Linked DNA regions of Homo sapiens. The protein of the gene in region 3 interacts with the protein of the main gene of each other region in a pairwise test. Each region holds a gene or a part of one and is shown on either strand. Other genes may lie near its edges.

Region 1 (7,034 bases), about 140 Mb from region 3:
CGGCTCACCTCCTTGTGGAAGGTCGTGGCCTCTGTGAAGTTCCCCAACAAATAGTGGGTGTTGCCCAGGTTGCCGTAGGCCCTGCCCTGCGCCGCACGGTCGCCCAGCTCCTTCACCAGGGACAGGTTCCTCCTGGGGGCCGAGTGCCTCTGAGCCGTGTCCCTCCCAGCCCATGTCCTCACCCACCCCAGGCTAGAAGAGCTGAGTAGCGGCCTCCATGCGGCCTCAGGGCCATGCCCTGGAAAGAGGGTGGCTAGGGTAGGCTCCAGGGTCCTCGAGCTCTGAGACCTGGGGCTTGGTCATGTCCCCCAAGTCCCTGACAGGGGCAAGCTCAGGGGAGGGAGCCAGCAGCTGAGAAAGCGGGGGTGGGCGGACCTGGCCGTCACTGCCCTGGGAGCTGTCGGGAGGTATGGGGCTGGGGTCGGGGGTCTGGAAGTGTCTGTGGAGCTCAGAAACGCACAGGCCAGCCCCGGTCCCTGGGCTGGCCCTGCCCCACTCACTCGTAGAACTCGGAGGCCTTGCACAGGGTCTCTCGGACATCGGGCGGCAGGTGCCCGGGGTCCTGCGTGGCGTTTGCGGCGTTCCAGGACAGTTGCTTGCCTTTGGCGTGGTACACGTTCCCGATGTTGTAGAGGGCCCTCGCCTCCCCAACCTGTGGGCAGTACGGAGGGTTGGGGGCATGCCTCCACGGCCCCCCACACGATGTGCAGAGCCGGCACACCGGTGTCCTCACTGTCCCAGCCCTCGACAGCGAGGGCCTTGGGGGCTCCCACTGAGTCACAGACACTAAGGCAGGGGCGGAAGCCTGAGGACGGCACACCCGGGAAGCCAGCCTCCGCCCTCCCTCACCATCCCTCCCTCCTCTGCGGATTGGCGTGGCCAGGGTGCCAGGTCCTCAGCTCTGTCCTCTGATGACCGAGGCTGAAAGCTCCAGCTGGGACCAGATGCTGCGGCCTCAAGCCCCCTTGGTCACCTCCAGCTGTGTGACGGGGGGTAAGTCACGTCCCCCCAGCCTTGGTTTTCTCGCCTCACAGGGCCATGGAGGGAGGTCAGCAAAGCCTGTCTCGGGTCCAGCACAAGCGGAGACGGAGCCACTCTTCCTGCTGTCACCACCGCCATTGAAATCGGCCTCCCACTGCCGCAGCCCAGAGCCACCCCCTGCCTCCCGCTGGGCCCCCCAGGGAGTGAGTGACTGGGGGTGTGGAGGGATTCGGGGGGAGGTCACCGAGAGGGGCGGCAGAACTGAGGGTGGAAGGTGGGGGCCTGGGCTGCAGTGTCAGCATGGGCTGGGGGGGCCTGTTTTGGGGGCCCACACTCTCCTGAGTCACTCGGGATCTAGGGGACCGACCTCCCTGTCATCCCTCCCATGAGGAGCTGGATGAGTGGTGAGTCACCCGCCCGCCCCTATCCCGGATCTGGACGCAGGCCGGTGCAGGGGTGGGAGACACCCAGCCCCGGACCAAGCCCCCACCTTGTCTCCCTGCTCTTGGGCGATGCTCAGATGCCGCTGGCAGCAGACGGCAGCCTCGTCGAAGCGCCCCAGGACCTTGAGTGTGTTTCCCAGGTTTCCACTGGCCTTGGCCTCCCCCATGCGGTCACCGATGGTCCTGGATGGCAGGGAGGAGTGAGGGGTCAGGCTGAGGACTGGTCAGGCCTCTGGGCCCGGGGGGAGGCTGAGCATGGGGTGGGGTAGCTGGGCCTCAGGGACCAGCATGGAGTGGACAGGAGCCTGCAACCCCTGAGGTGATACTGGGCAGGGGCCCACAGGCCGGGCAAGTGAGGCCCGAGGGCAGCCCTGGGTATGGGCTCTGCTGGGCTGTGTCTGGGGCACAGGCTCCTGCCCATCACCACACAGGCTGCACACAGGTGCCAGGAGCTACACACAGGACCTCACGCCTGGGCCTGGGGCAGGGGGCTGGGGTCTGCAGCTCTTAGGATCCGGGGAGGACTTGGGGGGCCTGATGGTGGAGAACTAACTTCCTGCTAACTCATTCAGAGGACGTTTGGTGCATGCCCACCAGACACTGAGCTGGGTGCTGAGGAGCAGGTGTGAGCTCACTGGCCAGTGCGGGAGGGTTGCTCCAAGAAGCTCTGCCCTGCTGAGAGGTCAGGGCAGCTGCAGGGCTGAGGGGGAGGGCGCTGGGCAGGGCTGAGGCAAGGGAAGCGTGCTCCCGTGAGGCACGGCCTGGGGGCTGGACCCGACTGGAGACCCCAAGACCCCAAGGGGCGGCGGGGAGTAGGTTGGGGAGACTGGGGAGTGGATGACGCCAGGCAGGAAGGAGGCTGTGAGTGGGAGCTTGGGGTCCATGGGAAAGCAGGGACAGCCCCCAGGGCAGGACCACACCTCACTGAGCAGTGGCTGGGAGTGGGCCCGGGGCTCAGGGCCTGGGGCCTGGGGCCAGGGAAAGGGTGGGGCTCTGAGCCACACAGGATCACAGATGGGCCACACACAGTCACGAGTGCTCACGCACAGCACGCGGGTCACAGCCCAGGCTCTCACACGCAGACACACAGACCCACTCACGCCTGTCAGCTGAAACCCAGCTCCCTGCCGGGGTCCCAGAGCCCTGGCTGCCCTCCAGGTGAGGGCTTCCCCACTGCGTTCCCTTAGACCCTGCTTGCCCTGTCCCCCTCCTCAAACTGTAACTGCTGAGGACAGGAAGCGTCCACCTGCCAGCAGGGCCACCCCCACTCACCCGCCAGCAGGGCCGCCCCACTCACTGCTCCAGCAGGGCCGTCCCCACTCACCCGCCAGCAGGGCCATCCCCACTCACCCACCAGCAGGGCTGTCCCCACTCACCGCGCCAGCAGGGCCGCCCCACTCACCCACCAGCAGGGCCGTCCCCACTCACCGCGCCAGCAGGGCCGCCCCACTCACCCGCCAGCAGGACCGTCCCCACTCACCGCGCCAGCAGGAGGTCATGCTTGTGGTATTCCAGCGCCCGGCCGTGCTCCTTCAGGTAGAAGTAGGCGTTGCCCAGCTGGCTGTAGATGGCACTCAGTGTCTTCAGGTCCTCGGTGCCCACCTGCACAGCAGCCTCAAAGAAGGCCACGCCTGTCTTGAAGTCGCCCGCCTTGCACAGACGCTCGCCCTCCAGCGCCAGCTCTAGGCAGGACGCCTCCATCCTGTGCAGAGGAACTTGGCGTCATGGCCCAGCCCTGGCAAAGTCGCCCCGGGGCCGGAGCACCTCCGTGGCTTCACTACAGACGACGCCCCTGGGTGGGCTAGGGCACACACCACATCTGTGCTCACAGACCTAAGTGTCTCTTTGGGATACAGGCCTGGAAGCACGTGTGCGGCCCAAGGGCGCCCCAGCCAGCACACCTCTGCCAGCACCTCCTGTCCACCCCTTGTGCGGCCAAGGTCAGGAACGCCACTGGGGCAAAGGTGTGAGTTTGTGACCCCGGCAAGACCCTCAGGCCCAGGGGCCGGTGTTGCAGGGGGTGTGGCCCCCATACCCTGCCTTCACCCAAATCCCAGAGGTACGGGCTGCAGGGGCCAGGCACCCTAGCCATCCTCCTGAGCGACCACAGCTGCTGGGAGAGGCCCCCCTAATTCCCACCAAGAACAACTGAGGCTCCCAGACGGTAGTGGGGGCTTGTGAAGGCCACATGGGGGTCGGGTGGGGTGGGGATCTGATCTCGGCTCCTCCCCCACCCCCAAGCTCTCCCAGCCAGGGCCTGGGGATTCAGTCAGCCTCCAAGTCTCCAGGGGAGACCAGTGCTGCGGAGGTGTGGCTGCGGGTTAGCCAGTCCCAGCCCCTCTCCTCCTGGTCCCCCACCCACAGAGCTAAGCGCTCGCCGCTGCCAGCCAGGACAGGCCTGAGAACCCGCTGTTCCCAGGTGCTGCCCGCCACCCCCAGCGCTGCTGTGGGAAGATGTGGATGGCGCCCCATCCCAAGGTGAACTCCGCCGTGTGAGCGCCACCTAACCCCAAGGGCCAGGCCCTCTTCTGAACACCAACGCCCTGCTTGGCCGTGGTCCCCCACCTTCGGGCAGGGACTTTAGAGAAGAAACCCCTCACCCTGGGCCCTGCACAACCCCCAAGCACCCTGTGCGTCAGCTGCCACCCTAGCCCTGCTCACCGAGGGACCCCCACCCTGGGCCTTGGGGAGCTGCCCTTGGCACTCAGCTGCCGGGGAGGAGTGTGGGGTCACTCCGTGGCTGCCCGGCTCCGCACCTCCCTGCTGCCTGCTCTGGGGCCTGGTGTCCTCCTCCATCCTACTCTTACAGGTCACATGGGCCTCAGGCTGCTGCGCTGCCCTGGGTGGAGGGTCGCGGGGGGAGGACACACCCAGCAGATGCCATGGGGTGGCCAGTGTGAGCAGGCGGGCCCCCATCTGCAGGGTGCCCCCGGAGAGCCACAAAAGACTCAGCAAGGGCGCAGCTTGGGGGGCCCCAGGAGGTGGCAGGCACAGCTGGAGCCCAGGAGGGACCTGATTTCAGAGAAGTGGGGGAAGGGTTCAGCCTCGGCTGCTTGCAGGCCGGCCCCATCATTCCTGTTTGCTTTCTGTTGCTTTCATTTTTCATTTTTAAAACTTATGTTACCATTATTATTTTTATAGAGACACGGTCTTGCTCTGTTGCCCAGGCTGGAGTGCAGTGGTGCGATCTCGGCTCACTACAGCCTCCATCTCCCAGGATCAAGCCATCCTCCTACCTCAGCCTCCCAAGTATCTGGGACTTCAGGTTTGCACCATCATGCCCAGCTTTTTTTTTTTTTTTTTTTTTTTGGTAGAGATGGGGGTCTCACTATGTTGCCCAGGCTGGTCTCAAACTCCTGAGCTCAAGTGATCCTCTCACCTCAGGGCCAGGCCCTCCCACCCACTACCTGCCAGGCACCTCACAGCCACCTCACCCATCCCTCTGGGAATGGCCATCCGGATGCCACGTGGGTCACAGGAGCCCACCGTCGCCATGACAACCAGCCAAGCCCCATCCTGCAGCCAGCGCCACGCACGGGGCTTCCTGATTAAGGCCCACTTGCCCCACCCAGCCACTTTTCAAGTGGTCTCACTCGGTTTACTGCCCCCTCCTTCCAGGCAACATCGGAGGAGAGGGGCTTCAGGCCTGAGGCCTGGGTGTCTGTGGAGCCCAGACGCTGCTGCTCCGCAGATCTGATGATGGGAGCCACCTCCCGCCTCCCTTCCAGCCGGAGACGTGGCATCCGAGGCTCAAGGCGAAGGAGGCTTCTGGCCTGGGAAGGGCCTGGGCCTAAAAGTCGGGGATGGGTGCACGGATGGGCCTCTGTCATTCTGCACCTCCAATCTGGGATCCAGGCAATGCAGCCAGCCACCTGCAGCTGCACCAGGTGGGTGTCCCCTCCACTCATCCCAAGACAGCCTCCAACCACGCCCTGGCACCCACACCCACGTGACCACCCCACTCGCTGCCCGCCGCACCTCTTCCTCTGCAGGTTTCGCATCTTCTGCACGTAGAGCCACAGCTCCAGGCCCACGGGCAGCAGCAGCGGGCGGGGGCGGGGGGCGCCATACACCACCTTGCACACGGCCTTCTCCGCCAAGCTCAGGGCCAGAGGCGGGCCCTCCCCAGCAGGGGATGGCATCGCCAGGCCCCAGGCCCTCCTCCCCCAAGCCAGCCCTCGCCCCACCATGGCCACGGGTCCTGGGGGGTGGGCTGGCCTTAGGCTTCCCTGCCCTCTGACCTCCAGGATGGTGGGTTTAAAGCTCGGCGGGGGACTGCCAGTCCTCCAGCAGGTGCTCGGGGGCCTCCCCAATCCCTGACGTGGATCAAGGGATCAAGGACAGCTCAGAGGCTGGGTCAGCCTCGTCAGCAGCGGGGCGGGGAGCCCTGGGGTAATCCCGTCCAACGTGCTCCTCCAGGGACTGGGACCAGCGGCATTGCCCTCCCGTCAGTCACCCGCCAACTCCTCTGCAAACGTTTATCCAGTTCCCAGCGGGGGCTGCTCTGCCCCAGGACCGGGCTCACTCGGGAGCGCCAGGCACGTTTGTGAATGGAAAGAGGAATGGCGTCCAGAGTGTGTGAGTGCCCCCAGCCCAGCACCTCTTCCCCCAGGCCTGGCCCAGGGCTGGGCAAAGCTGGAATTCTGCGCAGTGGTGGCCCCTGGCCGCCTACCGGTTCTCCAGGCCCCTGTGCCTCCTCTGCTCCACCCGACCCCACCTGGCCCCCTCCCCAGCCTCCCTGGCACCAGCCCACGGTGCCAGCATGGGGCAGCGGGGGGGGGGGGCTCAGAGTCCTCACCATGCCAGCCCCACGTCTGCCGGGCCCTCTGTGCTCTCCCTCACCTGACTGGCCAAGGTGCGAACAGGGCCCCAGGTCTGACGGGGTCAGGGCCACGTGGGGCCTGGGGGATGCCGCTCCCCAGGTCGTGGGGCTTGGGAGGCATGGACCACGTTCCCCTAGCCTGGCTCCTTTCCTCAAACTTCCCAAGCCCCCGGCGTCCTTCTCAGCTGGGCTCCCAGCTTCTCCAGCCACCTGTGGCCCATGAGGAGGCTGGAACCTGACAGAGGCGGGGGACTGGGGGGGCAGGTCTTATCCCTGAGACGGCCACGGGGTCTGAGCAGAGGCAGGAATCCAAGGACAGGTGGGGGTCTTCAGGCCCTGGGCTCTCTCCTCCTTACCTTGAGGCCTTGTGGGCTCAGGGGTCCTACTCAGGCCAGACCATTTGTCCACCTTCAGGACAGCTTGGCCAAAGGCGGGGCAGGACCTAGAATGCCTCTCCCTTGCCCAGTCCTCGTCAACAGACTGAACCCTCAGACCCTCCGTGGTGGCTGGGGTGCCATCACCAAGGCCAGTTCCCAAGCCAGCACTGCAACTCCTACTACCTCCGGCCACCCGAAAGCCGTGTCCCTCAGTCCCAGCCCTGCTAACAGAATTGGCACCTGCCCCTCCCCAAGGCCGTCACCTACATGCTGGCCCCTGAGCAGATGCTGAAGAGACTCTGCTCACAGCTGGCTCTATCTGCCCCATCCCCCAGCCAGACACCCCCAGGGAAAACCACACCGACTCCCCTTCAGTGGCCAGGGGAGGGGAGAGAGTGAGGCGCAGGACCG
Region 2 (7,034 bases), on a different chromosome or scaffold from region 3:
GGCCTTTCTCCTTCATAAATAGCTTCATGATGACTTCAGCGGAATCCAGTCCATGGTGATTGTGTAAAATCAGGCAAAAAAACCGCTCTCCTACTCGTTCAAGACTAGCCTGGCCAACAAAATGAAACCCCATCTCTACTAAAAATACAAAAATTAGCCAGGCATGGTGGCACGCGCCTGTAGTCCCAGCAACTCAGGAGGCTGAGGCAGGAGAATCACTTAAACCCGGGAGGCGGAGGTTGCAGTGAGCCGAGATCGTGCCACTGCACTCCAGCCTGGGCGACAGAGCGAGACTCCATCTCAAATAAATAAATAAATAAATAAATAACACAAAACAACAACAAAAAACAAATGAGGACTTTTCCCTGGACAAACATTGCAACATACCTTGTGATTTGTGAATCATCACAAATCTCTGAAACTCCCCATCATTCTTTCCCATCCATTCTCTTCTATTTCTCAGCATCAAGTGACTGACCTAACTCCCTAGTTCTCTAGCTAATAAGGCCCTGCCTGCAGCCCCTACTCCCAAATTAAGTTGGAAACACAGCATCAGACTCAGAATAGATTTCAAGAAAATATTTTGCAAGTCTGAAGTAAAGATCTACCCTTGACAGGTATGTCACATTGTGATACCTCTTAATAAGCAACATTGTTTGAATACTATAACATAGAACACACACACACACACATATACAGGAACAGACAGACTCAAGAAATCATGAGCTCACAATCTCTGGGCTTTTGGTACCAAAGCAATGATTCTGATTTCAGGCATTCCAGGGGGAATTCATACAAGGAGAATGAGTGAATGGGCAGGTGTTCAAGCAGAACAAAGAGCATGTTAATTATGGTTTGATTACTGCGTTTTTGAAATGCAACTTAAAATGGCTTATAAGAAGTACAAGTCTATCACATTGTCTTAAAGGTACTTTTTTTTATGTCTACATGTATGTATATATACATATTTACACATTTATTCACACACATATACACATTTTATTTCTATTTATGCAAATACATTCATACATACATACAATTATATATACAAAACTGAAGAGTTAAAAGTTGCCTATGACCATCACCAGATACATTTTTGTAAATTGAGTGGAATCAACTTAAAGTCTGTGGCAAATAAACCAGTATAATTCTATATAAATTTACATTTAAAAAGCTTTGAGTTTTGTAAGTAAAAAGAAAATCATAAAACTTCACATGGGAAAAGCAAGGAGTCTAGTCCTGGAGATTATTTCATATATCTAATAAGGGTGACACTGTAGTGACAGATAAATATTTTTTTGTTACCTCAACAAAGATGAAAGAGAGAATAAAGAAAAGCGTTTCAGAAAAACAGGATTTAATTTTTGAATTTAATTTTCCCTATGTAGTGGGAATTTTGAACATAATTTTCCCTCTGTTCTTCAGAACCTTGATATCTTAATAAGACAGTCTTTTATTACTTGCTTGATAAATATCCATCTTACTTAGAATTTTCTTGAGAGAAAAAAAGCCAGAACATAATGACTGGTATTTACTTAAAATACAAACATGTGTCTGTGATGAAATATACATTGAGGTGTGTATCTGAGGAGTTTATTACAATGAACTCAAATCTTATTATCTGTTAATTAGTATGACTTGAATAATCTTTATACATATAAAATACACAAAGAGAATATTGTTGTGGTTTAAATATATGTTACAGAACATATTTCCCAATAAATCTAGCATTTCTTAGCTTTCCAAAAGGCTTTCGTATTTTTAATGAAGAACCTAGTGATAGTGCTATTTTTGTACATCTTCTCTATAGTCAAAATACTGAACTAGACATTGTATTCTGGAGCATAAACAACAGAAAACAAATTATACACTTTCAGACACTGAATAAAACATTATGACAAATAACAAGTTACCAACAGATTAACATTATAAGGAGGAAAGTAAACATTTAAAATAAATTACTTACTTTGTTTGTCCATGATTAAAACAGTTCTGAAAAAGAAGATCTGACATTAACACACTGTCTACAAGGCCACAAGTCAAATATAACAGTTGAATCGGGATACTCTAAAACTACACAGTCACATTCATAGGATATTCCTCTTTATTCATCCAGCCCAGCCTTATCTGGTCATTTAAGCCCTTTGTGCTTGACTGCATTCCCCTTGCTGTGTTTCTGAGTAGGAATTTAGAAATTGTTGGTCAGCTCATGATGGTGAACACATTCTAAAGCCTTTTGGGAAGAGGGTCCAGTGAGGCAGAAAGCCATAAAGACACACTATGAGCTAAGACTCCAAGTAGTAACCAAGCTAATAACATCAACCTTCACAACTTGAACAATCTAAAGGAAATGCTTGGTTCAGTTCCCAGTCTTTGGACTGGAAATGCTTGGCCCAGTCTCTGGGCCCCAGGAATGTTCCAGCAGGAAAGCAAAAAATGTTAATTATCAGGTCACACTACTGCAATTATCTTGGGAAATGTAGGTCTTGTGGACCTGTTCTTTGCAAATTTGAGAAGGCCTGAGACGACTCCGTGCATTCAGAGATTTTTTTTTTTTTTTAACCAGAAAACCCACTCTCAGGAGTTGTCACAGCCATAGCACCTTGACCACCCAAGTGAAACTTTGTACTCGGTATTTATACAGAAACATAAATTGCAGCAAACATTCTACTCAATATTTCTGCCTTCCAGTGCCTTGATCCGATCCTAGTTTTTCCCACTACTATCCTGTCACTACTTTTTCCATCTCCTGTAGATCCCGATGCCCTTCATCCCTTTTAGCGACAATGCATTAGGCAAAACTCTGCTACCCAACATTTTTATCTTGGACCCACACACACTAACACAAACTGCCCATCCCCTTCCCAGGCCCACTCCAGTGCTGGCTACCCTTTAAATTATCTTACTGTGCAATCCTAAGTGGTTAATAAGTCAAGTGATCCCTCTACATGCTCAACTAAAATCAAGACTTCCCAAGAAGAAACCGCCTTCCTCCTTGCTGTTTCAGAATTATTTTTTGGCCAGGGATGGTGGCTTATGCCTATAATGCCAGTATTTTGGGAAGCTGAGGCAGGAGGATCACTTGAGTCCAGAAGTTTGAGATCAGCCTGGGCAACATGGACAGACACTGTCTCTACTAAAAAAAAATTAGCCAAGCATGGTGGCATGCGCTTGTAGTCCCAACTACTCGGGAGGTTGAGGTGGGAGGATTGCTTGAGCCTGGAATATTGACGGTCTAATGAAGTATGATGTCATCACTGCATTCCAGCCTGGGTGACAGAGCAAGACTGTGTTTTAAAATAAAGGGTTTTTTTTGTTTGTTTGTTTTGTTTTGATTATTGCCAACTTTAAGCACAAAATTTTATAATCAACTTAAAGTCTTAAGAACATTCCAATTATAGTCAACTCTTAATTATACATACTCAAGAAGTTCAGCAATGGTTGAATAATTCAAAATGGGTTTATGTGGTCCTGAAATAAATCAAAAGATGTGTTTGTGTTACTAACTTCCCAGATTTTCTTAGGACAATAGGAATCTCAGTTTGCATTAACTGGTCAGAAATTAATGCTGTAGACCTCAAGCCAGAAAGGTAGAAATATTAAAATTTATACTTTTCTGCTGTTAATCTATAAGGTGAGCAATAATAAACACATGTAACCAAAGTAGACTAAAAGTTTTCAAGACTACATTTGTTTTAGATTCCATCATATGAAGAACTGTGTAAGACTAAATTCATACATAAGAGGACATGATTTTTGTCAATCTCACATTTCTACCATCAAAGACTATACTTTAAAATGCCAATTTTTTAAAAATATGCGAAGAGTACTTTAACAGATATATCAGAAAAGATTAATACATACCGAATTAGAAGTAGGTAGTATCCTTTAATTAACACACTGGACTATACATCTCTAAAGTCTTTACCTGCCCCTTGCTTCTTATAGGATACCTCTCTATAACATGCTTAGCTTAAAAAAAAAATTCTATGGCCTTTAACCAATTTTAACAGAAATTTTAAGAAACTAGTGTTTCAATTATTCTCACCGTCCCTACAGGGTCAGAAAAGCACTAAATAATGTCTAAGGGCAAATCCTAAATAAAATGTAAGAGAAGAAACTTAGGCAAGTTTTTATTTTTTATTTTTTTTTATTTTTTGGCAAACAGACTACTCAACTGAAAAAAATTCATAGTTTCTGGATTGCAGATCTATACATCTGAAATAGAAAATATTTTTGTCATCATTTTAAAAATAATTTTTCTTAGCATTTAGTTGTTTTAGGCTTTCAAGTCCCATGCAAGCCAGAAATAAAGGATGTGCTGCAAAGATAGGGAATTCATAAACCCATGCTATGCATCCTGGTAAACAGTGGTCCCCAACCTTTTTGGCACCAGGGACCGGTTTTGTGGAAGACATGGACCAGTGAAGCAGGGGATGGTTTTGGGATGATTCAAGCGCATTACATTTATTGTGCACTTTATTTCTATTATTATTACATTGTAATATATAACAAAAGGATTATACAATTCATTATAAGGTAGAATCAGTGGGAGCCCTGAGCTTGTTTTCCCGCAACTAGACAGTCCCATGTGGGGGTGATGGGAGACAGTGACCGATCATCAGGCATTAGATTCTCATAAGGAGTGCGCAACCTAGATCCCTCACACATGCAGTTCACAATAGGGTTCTTGCTCCTATGAGAATCTAATGCCACTGCTGATCTGACAGGAGGTTGAGCTCAGGTGGTAATGTATGTGAGCGATGGGGAGCAGCTGTCAATACAGATGAAACTTTGCTCACTCTCCAGCTGCTCAGCTCCTGCTGTACAAGCCCAGTTCCTAACAGGCCACAGACTGGTACTGGTTGGTGATCCAGGAGCTGGGGAGCCCAGCTGTTAAGAATAGGTGGAGGATCTTCAGCAGGGAGTGTCATGAGTTTCAAGTCGTTGCCAAATGAATAACAACCATGAATACACATGGTATTTGCCTTTCACAAGGTCAGAGATCATTCTCTCCTTGCACAGAAATACCGGAAAGGAAAAGAAGCAGATTCTAAAACAATGACAATTTGTTCATATTTGCTCTTTTTCTTCCCACTTGGTTACATTATTTTTAATCTTAAAAGATAAGTTAGTGAGGATGAGACTTACTGGCAAAACTACTGCAGTATAAAATCTGGGTCTTTGCTTTACTATAGGTTTTAGAATTTTAGCATTTATATAATATCTCAAGCATTGAAAGTGGTATGTAATAAGCTCTGGTGCAAAATGTTAAGTGTTCCTTGTACCTGTACATGTGCCAAGTAGATAAGGCACTGTGTGCCAGGTCACTAAAGTCATCCACTATGTGGATGCCTACATTCCTGTTTGCTGTTATAATGATCCTTTGGGTTTTCTCAAGCTTAATAAGTCTATTCCCAGAAATACATCACTCAGTTTGGGGAATAACTGGGTGTGCCCTGAATGAATTAATGAGTTAATTAATTTAGCATGATAATTCATAAATAATGGCTTCTACCACACTTATTTCATTTTAAATTTCAGAAATACTCAGAGAAAGGGAAAATCATCTTTATGCTGTACCAAAAAATGTAATAAAGTTATGTTGTATATTGTACCATTGGAATAATAATTACTCCAGTATGAACACAGAACTTCAAATATAATCTGATTTTTTCTAACTCTGTTAACTAAGACTTTGGAGGAAACTGAGGCATCATATATTATTTGCATACAAGTACATCTCTGTTAAAATTTTTCTATCAGAAATCATAAGTTCCCATTGCTTCTCTGGACTATTTGATAACTGTAACCTCTACTACCACGAAGAGGAAGACACAGCACAGGGGATTTCCAGTTCTGGCTTCAAAATTCATATTACAGTGAAACTCTTTTGACCCATCTCTTGAGGTCCTGAAATTTTTATCTTACTGCTTTCAAAAAGTATTACTGTAAAATCTGGAACCCAAAGGGGAAGCATACTTAATTTTGAAAGTTCCTAAAACTAAAATTTGTTTACCCACACCAGATTTGGATTATTTATTTAAATTTACTTGTTAATTGCCTAAGAACAAGCTCCTTCCCTCATTCCCTCAAAACAGAAGATAAAGCATTTCACATTCTCTTCAAGCCCCAAGATAGGGATAAATGTTTTGAATTATGTTAGCAAAATTCTACTGCTCTGAAAACAAGAATTCTAGGTCCCTAACTTCCTCCGAATAACTGAGAATAAGATACTAGACTAGAGGAAAGGTAGGAATTTCAAGTAGGCCAGGGGAACATTACAGAGGTAAGTCACAAATCAAGTAACTTCCATGTCATTTGGGTTATGTTTGTACATAAATTTTGTACCTTTAAAAATGTTTAGTTAACATCTAAGAAGGAAAAATATTCATCTGTTGAACTCCAGTTTTGGTAAAAGTTAAGCTTAGAAAAAATTGATACATTTAAGCAAATGGGTGGGGCAAGCAGGTGGTGAGGCTTTGAGTATACAGCACATCATACTTGTAAGATACGGGATGAAACTGAGGTGACTGTGGCTGATTATAAATGCAAAGTACCTTGTAACAAGGAGCCATTCCATAAAAATCCTCTTGTGTATTTTATGCTGAACAAACAAAACAAATATGCTTAAAACCAGTTTAGGATAGCCTTTTATAGCATTTTATATTAAACCTTGAATAAAAATGTAGATGATACATCAACTAGGACCAAGTGAGATGGTAGTGATCAAGTGTTCTACAAAACTAAAAAGTAAACCAAAGAGACAAAGGAAACAAATACTGAATCAGTTATTCTCATTTGATTGCTTTACTACTCTGAAAAGCCTTTCCTGACAACCCAGAGCTCCCTCACAAATTTGCTTCCTTTCCTCCTAATAAATGGTGAAACTAAACCCATAGAAATAAAAGTGATTTTAATAAATGTGATACAGCTTGCTAACTAGCTGAATTAAGATGATTAATAATTCATATTCTTTGCACCGATGTCTCTAATTCACTGAAAAAAGGAAGACTGACATCCTTCAGTGAAAT
Region 3 (7,034 bases):
AATCACCACTCTGATGGGGAGTGGGGAGAAAGGTAGGAAAATAATAGATGATTGTTTAGGAAGACAGGCATACAAGTGGATCCATTCTACACAGTGCTTGTAGAAATAAAGTCTATTTGGGGTTTAAGCTGAAGAAAACTGCTCACTGAGACTGCCTGTTGCTATAGGTATTATACCCTTTTTGCAGTTGTTCTAATAATGTATTTGTGTATAACATTCCATATGTATTTAGAAGCATATCAGAACTACTCCTGAATAAGTGCAGAGAGTAAGCAAAACTAAGTGCAGAGAGTAAGCAGAACTCTATTGGAATGGTAGTTCCACATGTACATTAAGTATACAGACCATCAGAAATCTTTCAATATCTGCTGGCAATGTAGATCTATTACTTTGTGAACTTTGACTTTGAAATGTGGTTAGTCTTTTTGCGGGGCAAAGGACCTCTTTAATACATAAGCTGTGAAGAGAGATTTTTTTTTCTTGTAAACAGAAGCACATGGAGTCTTTCCTCTCCAGAAATCTTTGAGAAAAGCACATGCCTTAAGGAAGAGTATGTTTGCTGTGAATCACTGGAGGAAAACCACCCCGTTGAGGGAGTGACATATTCACATCAAAACTCAGTTTTGTAACTGGAAGAATTTTTTCTCAAATTCTGCTTTAGATTCTTTAAAGGAATGGGGTTATTTTATCTAATGGTGTAGTATGTTGAATATCCCTTTCAATGTGTGGTGTTTTTAAGGAGAATTTTCATATTCTAGTGGTTTTTACTTCTAGTTATGAAGTATTCTTTTTTCTTTTTGAATGTAGATTTCTCCTTCTCTTTGATTACCATCTACGATGGACCTGGAATTAATTATTAGATTTTGATTGAGCTGAACATTTTGATTTAAGCTATGTATAGATATATTAAGCTATATATATCTATTAAAAGCTATATATATAGCTTAAATTTAAATTCTAATTTAAGCTATATATGTGTGTGTATATATATATGTATATATACATACACTATTTAATTCATTTATTCTTCTCCTAAATTCCCTCTATGTTCTTCTCATACTCCTTCTCCCCATGAAAATACAGGAGGCATGAAGATCTTCCAACTGTTAGTGTATCTGAATCAGCAGTTTTAATCAGCCTAGCCAGCCTTTCAGGACGTGGGCTCAAGAGCTGAGGGAAGTTAAGGGTCACTGCCAAGGTGAAAAGCTAAAGTTACATTCTTGTGTTGTGGCTCCCTTCCCTACCCCCAACTTTTCCTCCAGGGGAGTGTCCTCGGACACCTTAGACTGTGGTGCGATGAGAAGAAAGATCTGTGGCTGTAGACTCTTCCTAGGTCTCCATCTGCCATCAAAATGAATATGTACACACATTCTTTTAAATGCTTTTAAAAGGAAAAAGAAATCGAAAACATGGTTAGGAATAAGAGAGAAGGATCAAATGGGAAAGTAGGATCTTCTTTCCTGTTTATTTCTTAGGGGGTGGGGGCGGAGCAAACAAGATAACTATAGGGGGAGAAGTTAGGAGATTTTGGAAAACTGCCTTTATTTTATTTTTTCCTCTTGCCCTGCGCCTCCTAGCATCTTTATGCTTGCCTCTGGGCTTTTCTGCTCCGGCTTGACTGGGTCCCGCAAAGTCCACTTCCTTTTTTTTTAATTTTTTTTTCCCCCAAAGAGAAGCACCTGCAAGTGTAATGGGTGTTACGGAACACTCGTCCAGGCCAGGATGAGAAACCCTCTGACTGTTGGCTAGGAAGAAAAGAAAAGCGGGAAATACTTAAAAACCATTTATGAAGTGTACCTGTGAATTGAAAAACAGGGTCTCATTTTAAGACAGCTTGATTTGAGGGTGAGGGGCTTGACTCAGTTGCATTTTAAAAAACAAAACCCAACCAAATAAAAAGGAATACGCATACAGGCACTAAGGTCTCTTCCAAACCCCACCCCAGGGCTGGCTCTTGGGGCTGGGATGCTGCTGGGGACCGGTCTTCCCAGCTCTTGGCCTGGCCGGTTTGCACGCAGTGCAGTTGCTGTGTGTGTGTTGCGGAGGGTTGCGGCAGCTGGCCCAGGACTGGGACCCTGGCCACAGCGGGTTCAAAGTAGGGGCAAAGATAGGGGGCAGCGGCTCCTTGCGGCCGCAATGGACTGCCGTCTCCTTGCACCAGGGGGTCGGAGCTGCAGCTGAGCCCAGCTTCTCGCCGCCTGCTGGGGACGGCTCTTTCCTTGGTCACTGTCAGGAAGCAGCTCACTAGGCAGCTCAGGAACCGCCCAGAGACAGCCACATCCCTTGCCTTTCCCTTGCCCAGCTCTTGGGCCACCACTCCCTCTCTGCTCTTCCTGAGCTTCACTACCCTCTCCTTCCCAAGGCAGGAGTCCCGAGGTGAGTTGACACCTTCTGCAAAAATCATGCAAACAAAAAATAGGATGCCAATATTGCATGGGACATACTTTCTCTAGAAAGCCTTCTTTGTTTATTTGATGGTCCCACTTAACTGGACATCCTGTTATTTTATCTGGCAACCATAGGCCTAGGCCTTCCTCACCCAGCCCCAGTACCCACGCAGGGCACCCCTTGGCGGTGGGGTCGCCTGTGCTCATCTCCTAGTTCTTTCTCTGCAGAGCCCGAGCTGCCTGGGACTGGCGTCAGGGAGGTGCTGGGGTCCATCCTGTGGATCTGGGACGGTTTGGCAGGAAAAACGAGAGTGTGTTCCACGTCTAGGAACCAGAGTTCTACTGCCATCTGGGAAAGAACCTCTCTCCACCTCCAAATCACTCCTTGGTGTTATAAATCTGGAGGATAGCCGTGCTCTCGACTTACACAACCAACTTTTCTTTTTCCCTGATGGATGAACTCCCGGGTTTAAAAGATTACAGTAATCACAGGAGGACAGTGTGAATCGAATCTGATAGCAATAACTTTCGGAGAAGGTCAGGCTCAAGTGAAATGTTACCAAGCAACAGGCATTTTGTTTGCAAAATACAATCAAAGAGCATTGATGAGAAATTCTTTGCTGCAGCCAGTCAGCACTTTCTGCTAACAGCTTTACAGAGAGAAAAGGAATAAATCTTCATAAATCAAAGTCCCTGGAGGACTCGGAGCCCTTTTCTGGAAATGTTGCACTTCTTCCTGACGGGAAGGAGGACTAAGCCCAGCAAAAAACCATGGGCCTGCCTGCCCTGCCTGCCCGCCTCCTCTTTCTTTCTCTTCCTTTCTTCCTCGCCTCTTGCTTTTTTCCTTTCTTCCCGCCTTTAAACCTGTTGCAGCCCCTTAGCCATTAGCTGCTCAGGTCCTTGGACCTCCTTGTCTAGTCCTGTGTGGCTCTGATGGCTTGTGCACGGGTGCTCATGGCAGAGGTGGAGGATGCAGTGATAGGACAGCTGGTCCTCACAGGTCCACCGCCTTGTGATTGTGTCAGTTACGTCCCACATCGCCTTAGTGAGTCATCCTCTTGCCTGAGCAATGCATACTACTGTTCTCAGAAGGGAAACTAAAATAACTAGGTATGGGGTTTTTTTGCATTTTATTGCATAAACAGCTATAAAAGGCACAATCAAGTACCAAGTAACAATAATAATAATGAAAAACTTAAGAGTCGGCACATCAATTCTTTACAAAATCTCCAATCTCTTGATTACAACAACTAGGCAGACATAAATTTTACAGAGCTGGGATTAGTGTTCCACGTTTTTCCCACTGATTATTACTTTGTTTAGTTCAGTATATATCTCTAGCACCCATAATCTTTATATGTAAGCATTTAAAACAATATTTCCTCCTGTGAAGACACCATGGTCTGCCCAGCTGCTATCCTTGGAATTATTTGCTGTATTTCACTGTGAAATATAACCAACTGCAGCTTACTTGGAATTTTGCAAAAGATTAGTTAGTAAACTGTATGCCTCTCAGTGGTCAAGAGGCAATGCTTTGATCATCTCTGTATGATCTTACCCAGCACAGTACATGAGAGCATAGTAAGGCATTTAGGGGCATTTGTTAAATAGATGGATGAGTTAGACAGGTGCATTTTGGAAGGTACCAAATAAACATGTAGATTTGTAGGTAATTTCCCCTCTGCTTCTTGGAAGGTATTCCCTTCTGAGTCAAGAAAGAGATCAAAACTAATTTTTTACAAAATATGTGAGGTCCACAGTTGCAAACCATACTTCCTTCAGCCCAGTCCTGTCTATAGCAATATTCCCCCAAAATATAGTGTCAAGGAACCACTCTGATTCCTTCATACGTTATTAATTCAGTGTTGTTAATGATTTTTTAAAAAGTAAAGCATGGCTAGTTTTTTTTTTTTTTTTAACTTTTCACAACCCTCCCCAACCCGGCAATCCACCCCAGGAAGAAAAGGAAAGTTTTTAGATCGAGATCATTCCCTGGTGTTCTTTAGATTTTCAACTATTCATTTTTTTAAAATAATTCATCACTTCTAGTGTGAGATGAAGGTAAGAGAAAATGTGAAGCGTTTGTCTACGATTAGAATTCTGATTAGGCAATGGTCTCCTGTAAAAGTCTCATCCTGCCTGGGCTCCCTCCCTTGCCATTGTTGTAAGATTTATGTGCTTTGAAAACTACCCATCAAGGACCTGTTATTTACAGGTGTGTTCCCCACAGCTCAAGTGAACAGATGAGGATATGACAATCTATGTTTCAAAATGCGTGACATGATTTCAAAAGGGATGGGGGAGTCCAGTGACTTTTGAGCTAGGAAATATTCCTCTCTGCTCGAGTTTTTCTGTGTTTTCATTCTGTATGTAAGAACTATTTTGTTTTCGTAGATATAATTGGATAGAATGGATATAACCTATGACATCTAAGTCAGAAAGATTTTTCACATTTTTTTTTTTTTATTTAGACAGTCTAATTCTGTCGCCGCAGCTGGAGTGCAGTGGTGAGATCTGCAGCTCACTGCAAGCTCTGCCTCCCGGGTTCACGCCATTCTCCTGCCTCAGCCTCCTGAGTAGCTGGGACTACAGGCACCTGCCACCATGCTCGGCTATTTTTTTTTGTATTTTTAGTAGAGATGAGGTTTCACCATGTTAGCCAGATGGTCTTGATCTCCTGACCTCGTGATCCACCTGCCTCGGCCTCCCAAAGTGCTGGGATTACAGGTGTGAGCCACCGCGCCCAGCCAGATTTTTCACTTTTATGCATCGTGAGCAGAATGTTTGTTTCTCATATGTGGTAGACTTTCTCAAAGTATTTGAAATAATACATTTTTTTTTTACTAAATTGCATTTTTATGTGAAAAACTCCCCTAAAGAAAGTTACATTTTCAAACTGTAATTTTAGATTGAAAGCACTTTTGTGAGTGTTTATTTTCTCTCTTTAAAGTCTTGTAGCAAAAAAAGAAAAAAAAGTATTGTAGTCATCTTATGGCATATATATTTTGAAGTCGGTAGCATTGTTATCTGTAGAAAAACTTTTCTTTTTAATTGAATATCTACTTCTTTTAAAAACCTCTTTACCCTAGTGCACAGTTTATTTCAGGGATAGCTATAAGTGTTTCTACCCCATGAAATATGAAATGGAAGAGAGAATATTAAGATTTTAAAAATATGTACATGTTTAGCAATAGAAACAGCATATTGTATCACTTTCAGTAATATTTGTCATATTCGATAAAATTGATTTCTTCCCTGTTTAATAGCTTTGACTTTCTATACCCATCTACCGGGGTAAAAATATTATCAGTTGATATACACTCTTAATGTTCTAGGAATTAGGGTTTCAGTTTCAAGAAGAAAGAAGGTAAAATGTTTCAGGAGTATTTCCTATTTTATTTTGTTAGTTGGCAGTTTCACATTTCTATGTCTAGAAAGGCCTTTATGTTTTAAACCAACTAGAATGATTTGTAAAGTTTATTTAAGAACAAATCTGGAGATGTAAAGAAGTACCTGTTATTAAATTACACTTTATCACTGGGCTCAAAACTCACCCTCTATAATTACCTGTGAAAGTCTGTATTTATAATAGAATAATTTACAATATATTTAGTTTAGGTGCAATAATACAACCAGTACTAGACACCATAGCGCCACAAAATTGCAGGAACTATATATCCTGCCCTTCAGAAATTATTGTTTGGTGAGGAGTTATTCTTGGTGCAAAGTTAGAGGCTAGTCTTCCTTTGCCTAGTTTTGAAACTCCAACAGCCTTACATGTTGATGGGGATTTGGCTCACCCAGCACTACTTAGCAGGACCTTGTGTGCGGCTCAGGTGCATAAGCCTCACAGGTGTGCTCTGCTTGTTCTTTCATCATCTTTGTCTTTCCTTTGAACACAGTGTAAGCAGTGCTGAGCTCAGCTGGTTGGTTGGTTTACGCTGAATTTGTAGATTTGATTCCTGTGACATTGTGTTAGCTTTTCTCATATTTTGGCTATAGCCAGACGGCACAGAGACCTGCGGAGAGAGCATGGAGGATTCGGTGTAATCTATCACCACTCCTTGACAAGTAACCAGAAGTGCATGATGCACTAGCATGTCCCAGTAGCAGGGGCAAAGGGTAACACAACAAAATGAGAAAGTGACTTTCACAGTCTGAGAGTTCACAATTGCTGAACAAGCTGGCACTGACATAAGATTCCACTACCGTCTGTTCCGCAGAACTTAGGAAAATAGGTACAAGAGTGGAATTTTATATTGTCAGACTTGTAATCCTGGTATCAAGTATTCAGTTGATTGGGACAGTATATCTGTTGCTACCTTGAAAAAAAAAAGCCTCCATTTTTGTAATGGTAGAGTCATTATGTTAGTGAGAACCTCATTCCCTAATTCCCCTTTCAGTTAGCCTTCTGCTGTTTGATCCACTTTTTTTCTGGAGACTGAAGTGTACTGTGGAAGAGTCAATTTGGTTGACAGACCTGAGAAAACACTTCCTAATATGTTTTCAGTGTTTGAAACTTATCTAAAGTGGGGGCAGGGGATGTACCTTTTAAAACACAAAGCTATTTGGTTCATATATTTCTTTTAAAAATAGTTGAGCTGGCCGGGCGTGGTGGCTGACTCCTGTAATCCCAGCACTTTGGGA

What was found.
Region 1: the proteins of DMRT3 (region 3) and GPSM1 interact in binary tests that used the Homo sapiens proteins (3 or more experiments, as listed by UniProt).
Region 2: the proteins of DMRT3 (region 3) and PLSCR1 interact in binary tests that used the Homo sapiens proteins (3 or more experiments, as listed by UniProt).

Annotation. Positions count from the first base shown.
Region 1 is NC_000009.12:136,330,539-136,337,572, reverse strand, and holds part of GPSM1 (G-protein-signaling modulator 1), read right to left. Parts: intron 3,127-7,034; coding exon 2,905-3,126; intron 1,608-2,904; coding exon 1,472-1,607; intron 653-1,471; coding exon 501-652; intron 133-500; coding exon 9-132; intron 1-8. UniProt on the Homo sapiens protein: Guanine nucleotide dissociation inhibitor (GDI) which functions as a receptor-independent activator of heterotrimeric G-protein signaling.
Region 2 is NC_000003.12:146,534,574-146,541,607, forward strand, and holds part of PLSCR1 (phospholipid scramblase 1), read right to left. Parts: intron 6,608-7,034; exon of another isoform or gene 6,584-6,607; coding exon of another isoform or gene 6,561-6,583; exon of another isoform or gene 4,179-6,560; intron 3,472-4,178; exon of another isoform or gene 3,423-3,471; intron 1,993-3,422; coding exon of another isoform or gene 1,980-1,992; coding exon 1,967-1,979; intron 1-1,966. UniProt on the Homo sapiens protein: Catalyzes calcium-induced ATP-independent rapid bidirectional and non-specific movement of phospholipids (lipid scrambling or lipid flip-flop) between the inner and outer leaflet of the plasma membrane resulting in collapse of the phospholipid asymmetry which leads to phosphatidylserine externalization on the cell surface.
Region 3 is NC_000009.12:979,621-986,654, forward strand, and holds part of DMRT3 (doublesex- and mab-3-related transcription factor 3), read left to right. Parts: intron 1-7,034. UniProt on the Homo sapiens protein: Probable transcription factor that plays a role in configuring the spinal circuits controlling stride in vertebrates.